Linked DNA regions of Homo sapiens. The protein of the gene in region 1 interacts with the protein of each later gene in a pairwise test. Each region holds a gene or a part of one and is shown in the gene's direction. Other genes may lie near its edges. The genes, in order: TLR8 and BTK.

Region 1 (3,827 bases):
ACCTCTCTAGCACTTCCCTCAGGAAGATTAATGCTGCCTGGTTTAAAAATATGCCTCATCTGAAGGTGCTGGATCTTGAATTCAACTATTTAGTGGGAGAAATAGCCTCTGGGGCATTTTTAACGATGCTGCCCCGCTTAGAAATACTTGACTTGTCTTTTAACTATATAAAGGGGAGTTATCCACAGCATATTAATATTTCCAGAAACTTCTCTAAACTTTTGTCTCTACGGGCATTGCATTTAAGAGGTTATGTGTTCCAGGAACTCAGAGAAGATGATTTCCAGCCCCTGATGCAGCTTCCAAACTTATCGACTATCAACTTGGGTATTAATTTTATTAAGCAAATCGATTTCAAACTTTTCCAAAATTTCTCCAATCTGGAAATTATTTACTTGTCAGAAAACAGAATATCACCGTTGGTAAAAGATACCCGGCAGAGTTATGCAAATAGTTCCTCTTTTCAACGTCATATCCGGAAACGACGCTCAACAGATTTTGAGTTTGACCCACATTCGAACTTTTATCATTTCACCCGTCCTTTAATAAAGCCACAATGTGCTGCTTATGGAAAAGCCTTAGATTTAAGCCTCAACAGTATTTTCTTCATTGGGCCAAACCAATTTGAAAATCTTCCTGACATTGCCTGTTTAAATCTGTCTGCAAATAGCAATGCTCAAGTGTTAAGTGGAACTGAATTTTCAGCCATTCCTCATGTCAAATATTTGGATTTGACAAACAATAGACTAGACTTTGATAATGCTAGTGCTCTTACTGAATTGTCCGACTTGGAAGTTCTAGATCTCAGCTATAATTCACACTATTTCAGAATAGCAGGCGTAACACATCATCTAGAATTTATTCAAAATTTCACAAATCTAAAAGTTTTAAACTTGAGCCACAACAACATTTATACTTTAACAGATAAGTATAACCTGGAAAGCAAGTCCCTGGTAGAATTAGTTTTCAGTGGCAATCGCCTTGACATTTTGTGGAATGATGATGACAACAGGTATATCTCCATTTTCAAAGGTCTCAAGAATCTGACACGTCTGGATTTATCCCTTAATAGGCTGAAGCACATCCCAAATGAAGCATTCCTTAATTTGCCAGCGAGTCTCACTGAACTACATATAAATGATAATATGTTAAAGTTTTTTAACTGGACATTACTCCAGCAGTTTCCTCGTCTCGAGTTGCTTGACTTACGTGGAAACAAACTACTCTTTTTAACTGATAGCCTATCTGACTTTACATCTTCCCTTCGGACACTGCTGCTGAGTCATAACAGGATTTCCCACCTACCCTCTGGCTTTCTTTCTGAAGTCAGTAGTCTGAAGCACCTCGATTTAAGTTCCAATCTGCTAAAAACAATCAACAAATCCGCACTTGAAACTAAGACCACCACCAAATTATCTATGTTGGAACTACACGGAAACCCCTTTGAATGCACCTGTGACATTGGAGATTTCCGAAGATGGATGGATGAACATCTGAATGTCAAAATTCCCAGACTGGTAGATGTCATTTGTGCCAGTCCTGGGGATCAAAGAGGGAAGAGTATTGTGAGTCTGGAGCTAACAACTTGTGTTTCAGATGTCACTGCAGTGATATTATTTTTCTTCACGTTCTTTATCACCACCATGGTTATGTTGGCTGCCCTGGCTCACCATTTGTTTTACTGGGATGTTTGGTTTATATATAATGTGTGTTTAGCTAAGGTAAAAGGCTACAGGTCTCTTTCCACATCCCAAACTTTCTATGATGCTTACATTTCTTATGACACCAAAGATGCCTCTGTTACTGACTGGGTGATAAATGAGCTGCGCTACCACCTTGAAGAGAGCCGAGACAAAAACGTTCTCCTTTGTCTAGAGGAGAGGGATTGGGACCCGGGATTGGCCATCATCGACAACCTCATGCAGAGCATCAACCAAAGCAAGAAAACAGTATTTGTTTTAACCAAAAAATATGCAAAAAGCTGGAACTTTAAAACAGCTTTTTACTTGGCTTTGCAGAGGCTAATGGATGAGAACATGGATGTGATTATATTTATCCTGCTGGAGCCAGTGTTACAGCATTCTCAGTATTTGAGGCTACGGCAGCGGATCTGTAAGAGCTCCATCCTCCAGTGGCCTGACAACCCGAAGGCAGAAGGCTTGTTTTGGCAAACTCTGAGAAATGTGGTCTTGACTGAAAATGATTCACGGTATAACAATATGTATGTCGATTCCATTAAGCAATACTAACTGACGTTAAGTCATGATTTCGCGCCATAATAAAGATGCAAAGGAATGACATTTCTGTATTAGTTATCTATTGCTATGTAACAAATTATCCCAAAACTTAGTGGTTTAAAACAACACATTTGCTGGCCCACAGTTTTTGAGGGTCAGGAGTCCAGGCCCAGCATAACTGGGTCCTCTGCTCAGGGTGTCTCAGAGGCTGCAATGTAGGTGTTCACCAGAGACATAGGCATCACTGGGGTCACACTCATGTGGTTGTTTTCTGGATTCAATTCCTCCTGGGCTATTGGCCAAAGGCTATACTCATGTAAGCCATGCGAGCCTCTCCCACAAGGCAGCTTGCTTCATCAGAGCTAGCAAAAAAGAGAGGTTGCTAGCAAGATGAAGTCACAATCTTTTGTAATCGAATCAAAAAAGTGATATCTCATCACTTTGGCCATATTCTATTTGTTAGAAGTAAACCACAGGTCCCACCAGCTCCATGGGAGTGACCACCTCAGTCCAGGGAAAACAGCTGAAGACCAAGATGGTGAGCTCTGATTGCTTCAGTTGGTCATCAACTATTTTCCCTTGACTGCTGTCCTGGGATGGCCTGCTATCTTGATGATAGATTGTGAATATCAGGAGGCAGGGATCACTGTGGACCATCTTAGCAGTTGACCTAACACATCTTCTTTTCAATATCTAAGAACTTTTGCCACTGTGACTAATGGTCCTAATATTAAGCTGTTGTTTATATTTATCATATATCTATGGCTACATGGTTATATTATGCTGTGGTTGCGTTCGGTTTTATTTACAGTTGCTTTTACAAATATTTGCTGTAACATTTGACTTCTAAGGTTTAGATGCCATTTAAGAACTGAGATGGATAGCTTTTAAAGCATCTTTTACTTCTTACCATTTTTTAAAAGTATGCAGCTAAATTCGAAGCTTTTGGTCTATATTGTTAATTGCCATTGCTGTAAATCTTAAAATGAATGAATAAAAATGTTTCATTTTACAAGAGGAGTGTATGATAAATATATCATAGAGAAATTGGTCTTTAATATAAAAGAAATTGCCATATACACTGAATTTTTTCAGAACTCTTTTTAAAAAACTATTTGGTAGAAATCAAAGGGGAAGCAGTTTTCATGACACTTTTACTTTAAGATACTTATTAATAGATAAATTCTATCTTGATTCCCTACTCAGAAGACATAAAGTCAGAATGCCTGGCTGTTGGTAGCCTTTGTGCAATTCCCCCAAATGAAACAACTTTGGCAACCCTTTCCACTTCTACTGTCCCCTTGGTTCCTCTGCATCAGTCCATAGCATCCTCTATCCAGTATGAATCTTGAGATATCTAATGAAATTTACCTGAGAATAACTAGAAATTATCCAAGCATAAGAAAAGGAAGTTGCTTCAGAATGAAAAGAAGATAAACCTCCAATATACCATCTTTCCTTTTTAGTTAAATCTTACAGCATGAGTTACCTTTTAATATGTGCTTCTAAGAAACTGACCAAAATAATGTGTCATAGTGTTATTTAATACGCACAAAGTGGAAAGCAGTGCAAGTTTGCCAAGGACAATTT
Region 2 (3,448 bases), about 88 Mb from region 1:
GCAATTCTCCTGCCTCAGCCTCCCAAGTAGCTGGGATCACAGGCGCCCAACACCACGCCCAGCTAATTTTTGTATTTTTAGTAGATGGGGTATCGCCATGTTGGCCAGGCTGGTCTTGAACTCTTGACCTCAGGTGATCCACCCACCTCGGCCTCCCAAAGTGTTGGGATTACAGGCGTGAGCCACTGCACCCAGCCTCTCCCTTAATTCTTTCAGCATATCAGTGAGGGAATGGGGTGGTGTGGAATTGCCCATGAGAATGCAATCGTTCTGTATGTCCTCAGTGCTTTACCTAGGACTACACAGCAGGTTGCTTTCCACGTGGTGGAAATGAATCAAAATTTCTTGGTGGCATCAACAGATTCCTATTAGGTGGGAAGGTGTCTGTAGTCGAAGGAGATGAAGCTTCCCTGGCTTCATTCTACTGGTCAGCAGAAGCTTTGTGCCTTTAACCTCTGTGCTGGGGACGGAGTCTCACTGGTCTCTGTTTGCACTACAGGCAGCTCGAAACTGTTTGGTAAACGATCAAGGAGTTGTTAAAGTATCTGATTTCGGCCTGTCCAGGTGAGTGTGGCTTTTTCATCTTTCCCTCCAGAAGTAAAAATAGCACAGTATGAAACATGGGTAGGTGTTACAGTTTTAATCCTCTCCTTTTCTTTTTTTTCTCATTCTAGCGTTTTCTGCCGATCTTTCTATTCTTTTTCTTCCTCTGAGTTATTTAAGCCACCTCTTTCATCCTTTTGTTTTATTGTCATATCCCTTTCCTTCCTTTCTCCCTTTATCTCTACCTCCTCTTTTTTAAATCTATTTCCCCAATACCTTATCTTGATCTATTAATCCTGATGACTTTACTCCATTCCTCCTTCTTTCTTAATCAGTCTAATTCCCAGTGACAACTGCAGATAAAAGGAAGGGAAGGAGAAGAGCAGAGAAAGGAAAGGTGGATAGAGAAGAGGAAGGGAGTACCTACTAGATCTTATTTCACTTCATCCTTCTTGTAACCATATTGTCAATCAGGAAAGCTCAATCAGATACAAAAACAGGAAATTCGTTAAAAGTAACGTTTGTAGAAGATACTAGTTGAGGAGGAGAGACTTTTGAGAAAGCCTGTGTGTGTTTGTGACACTCTTGTGACCGTGCCAAGAAAACGTAAGCAAATATCAAGCCTCCAAATCCTAATGCAACAAGTCCTGAATCCCTTGCAGGTATGTCCTGGATGATGAATACACAAGCTCAGTAGGCTCCAAATTTCCAGTCCGGTGGTCCCCACCGGAAGTCCTGATGTATAGCAAGTTCAGCAGCAAATCTGACATTTGGGCTTTTGGTAAGTGGATAAGATTACACAGATTATACAGCTCAAAGGATAAGAAATGCAATGGGAAAATTCACACTTTGCAACCTCCACAGAGATATTGTTCTTGCTTTCATTCTTCCAATCCTTGGGGAGTGCTTACTGTGTGTCAGCCACCACAGGGGTTTCTGAGGATGAAAACTAAACTGGACATGATCTCTGCCTTTTTAGAACTTAAACCATGTTAAGGAAAACAATTCATTCAGTTTTCAACAGCTTCTGAATACTGATTATGTACCAGGCACTCTGCCAGACCCTATAACTGCAAAGACAAATAAGATGCTGTCTCTCTTCTAGAGGAGTTAATAGTCTAGTACGACCTTGATCTCCATCTAGTGTGGTCAGTACTATAGCAGAAATTTGGGCAAAATATAAAAAGCACAGAGCGGGGAACCAACTGATTCTAATCTTTGAGGTTGATCTAGGAAGACTAGGACCCCTGCTATCCAAAAAGACTGCAAACCAATTTAATAATTTTTTTCACCTTCTAGGGGTTTTGATGTGGGAAATTTACTCCCTGGGGAAGATGCCATATGAGAGATTTACTAACAGTGAGACTGCTGAACACATTGCCCAAGGCCTACGTCTCTACAGGCCTCATCTGGCTTCAGAGAAGGTATATACCATCATGTACAGTTGCTGGCATGAGGTAAGTGCTTTATTAGGATCTCTTAAATTATTTCCTTGAATCTACTTGCCCATTTAGCTGGCCATTCAGCCACCAAAGACTGATAGCTGCACACATTCTTTTTTTTCCTTTTTTTTTTTTTTTAATTTGAGACAAGGTCTCGCTCTTTCACCCAGGTTGGAGTACAGTGGCGCGATCTTGGCTTACTGCAACCTTCGCCTCCCAGATTCAAGCGATTCTCATGTCTCAGCCTCCCAAGTAGCTGGGATTATAGGCGTGCACCACCACACCAAGCTAATTTTTTTTTTTTTTTTTGGTGACACAGTCTTGCTCTGTCACCCAGGCTGGAGTGCAGTGGCACGATTTTGGCTCACTGCAACCTCTGCCTCCTGGGTTCAAGTGATTCTCCTGCCTTAGCCTCCCGAGTAGCTGGGACTACAGGCACATGCCACCGTGCCCAGCTAATTTTTGCATTTTTAGTAGAGACAGCATTTCACCATGTTGGCCAGGCAGGTCTTGAACTCCTGACCTCAGGTGATCCACCCACCTCGGCCTCCCAAAGTGCTGGGATTACAGGCGTGAGCCACTGAGCCTGGCCAATTTTGTATTTTTAGTAGAGATGGCATTTCGCCATGTTGACCAGGCTGATCTCGAACTCCTGGCCTCAAGTGATCCGCCCACCTCGGCCTCCCAAAGTGCTGGGATTAGAGGCATCAACCACCACGCCAGGCCTTGCACACATTCTCTGACCTTGGCCTGCAACTTGATCATCTGATGGCCAGAGGCTTTCCCAGGCCCACTCCGATTCTCACTAGAGTGTCATTAGTACACTCCAATGCCAGCTCAGCTTTAGGGAGTGAGGTGTTGTGGGGCCATGTCATCTAGCATAAGCAGGCAGCCAGAGGCATTCAGACAAGTGAATGGGCATTACAAAAGAAAAGTCATGAAAGTTTGTTCATTCCTTTGTGTGTCATTGGCCCTTTCTTCTACTTTATTAGCTGCCAACCGTTTCTGGCTGAGGTCCTAAATGAGATTTTTTTTTTTTTTTTTTTGAGACCGAGTCTTTCTCTGTCGCCCAGGCTGGAGTGCAGTGGCGTGATCTCGGCTCACCGCAAGCCCCGCCTCCTGGGTTCACAGCATTCTCCTGCCTCAGCCTCTCGAGTAGCTGGGACTACAGGGGCCCGCCACCACGCCCGGCTAATTTTTTGTATTTTTAGTAGAGACAGGGTTTCACCGTGTTAGCCAAGATGGTCTCGATCTCCTGACCTTGTGATCCACCCGCCTCTGCCTCCCAAAGTGCTGGGATTACAGGCATGAGCCACAGCGCCCGGCTAAATGAGATTTTTTTTAAAACCTACTGCTTGAAAGGGAACTAAAACAGGTAGTGGGTTTTTTGTTTGCTTTGTTTTGTTTTGCTTTTTAATATGGTGCATCGTGGGGTATGTGGGTAGGTGTGGTATTTTGGAAAT

What was found.
Region 2: the proteins of TLR8 (region 1) and BTK interact in a two-hybrid assay, tested with the Homo sapiens proteins (one study listed by BioGRID).

What each region holds. Positions count from the first base shown.
Region 1 is NC_000023.11:12,919,918-12,923,744, forward strand, and holds the end of TLR8 (toll-like receptor 8 isoform 2 precursor), read left to right. Parts: coding exon 1-2,249; 3' UTR 2,250-3,252; downstream 3,253-3,827.
Region 2 is NC_000023.11:101,351,746-101,355,193, reverse strand, and holds part of BTK (tyrosine-protein kinase BTK), read left to right. Parts: intron 1-499; coding exon 500-564; intron 565-1,205; coding exon 1,206-1,324; intron 1,325-1,842; coding exon 1,843-2,000; intron 2,001-3,448. UniProt on the Homo sapiens protein: Non-receptor tyrosine kinase indispensable for B lymphocyte development, differentiation and signaling. Binding of antigen to the B-cell antigen receptor (BCR) triggers signaling that ultimately leads to B-cell activation.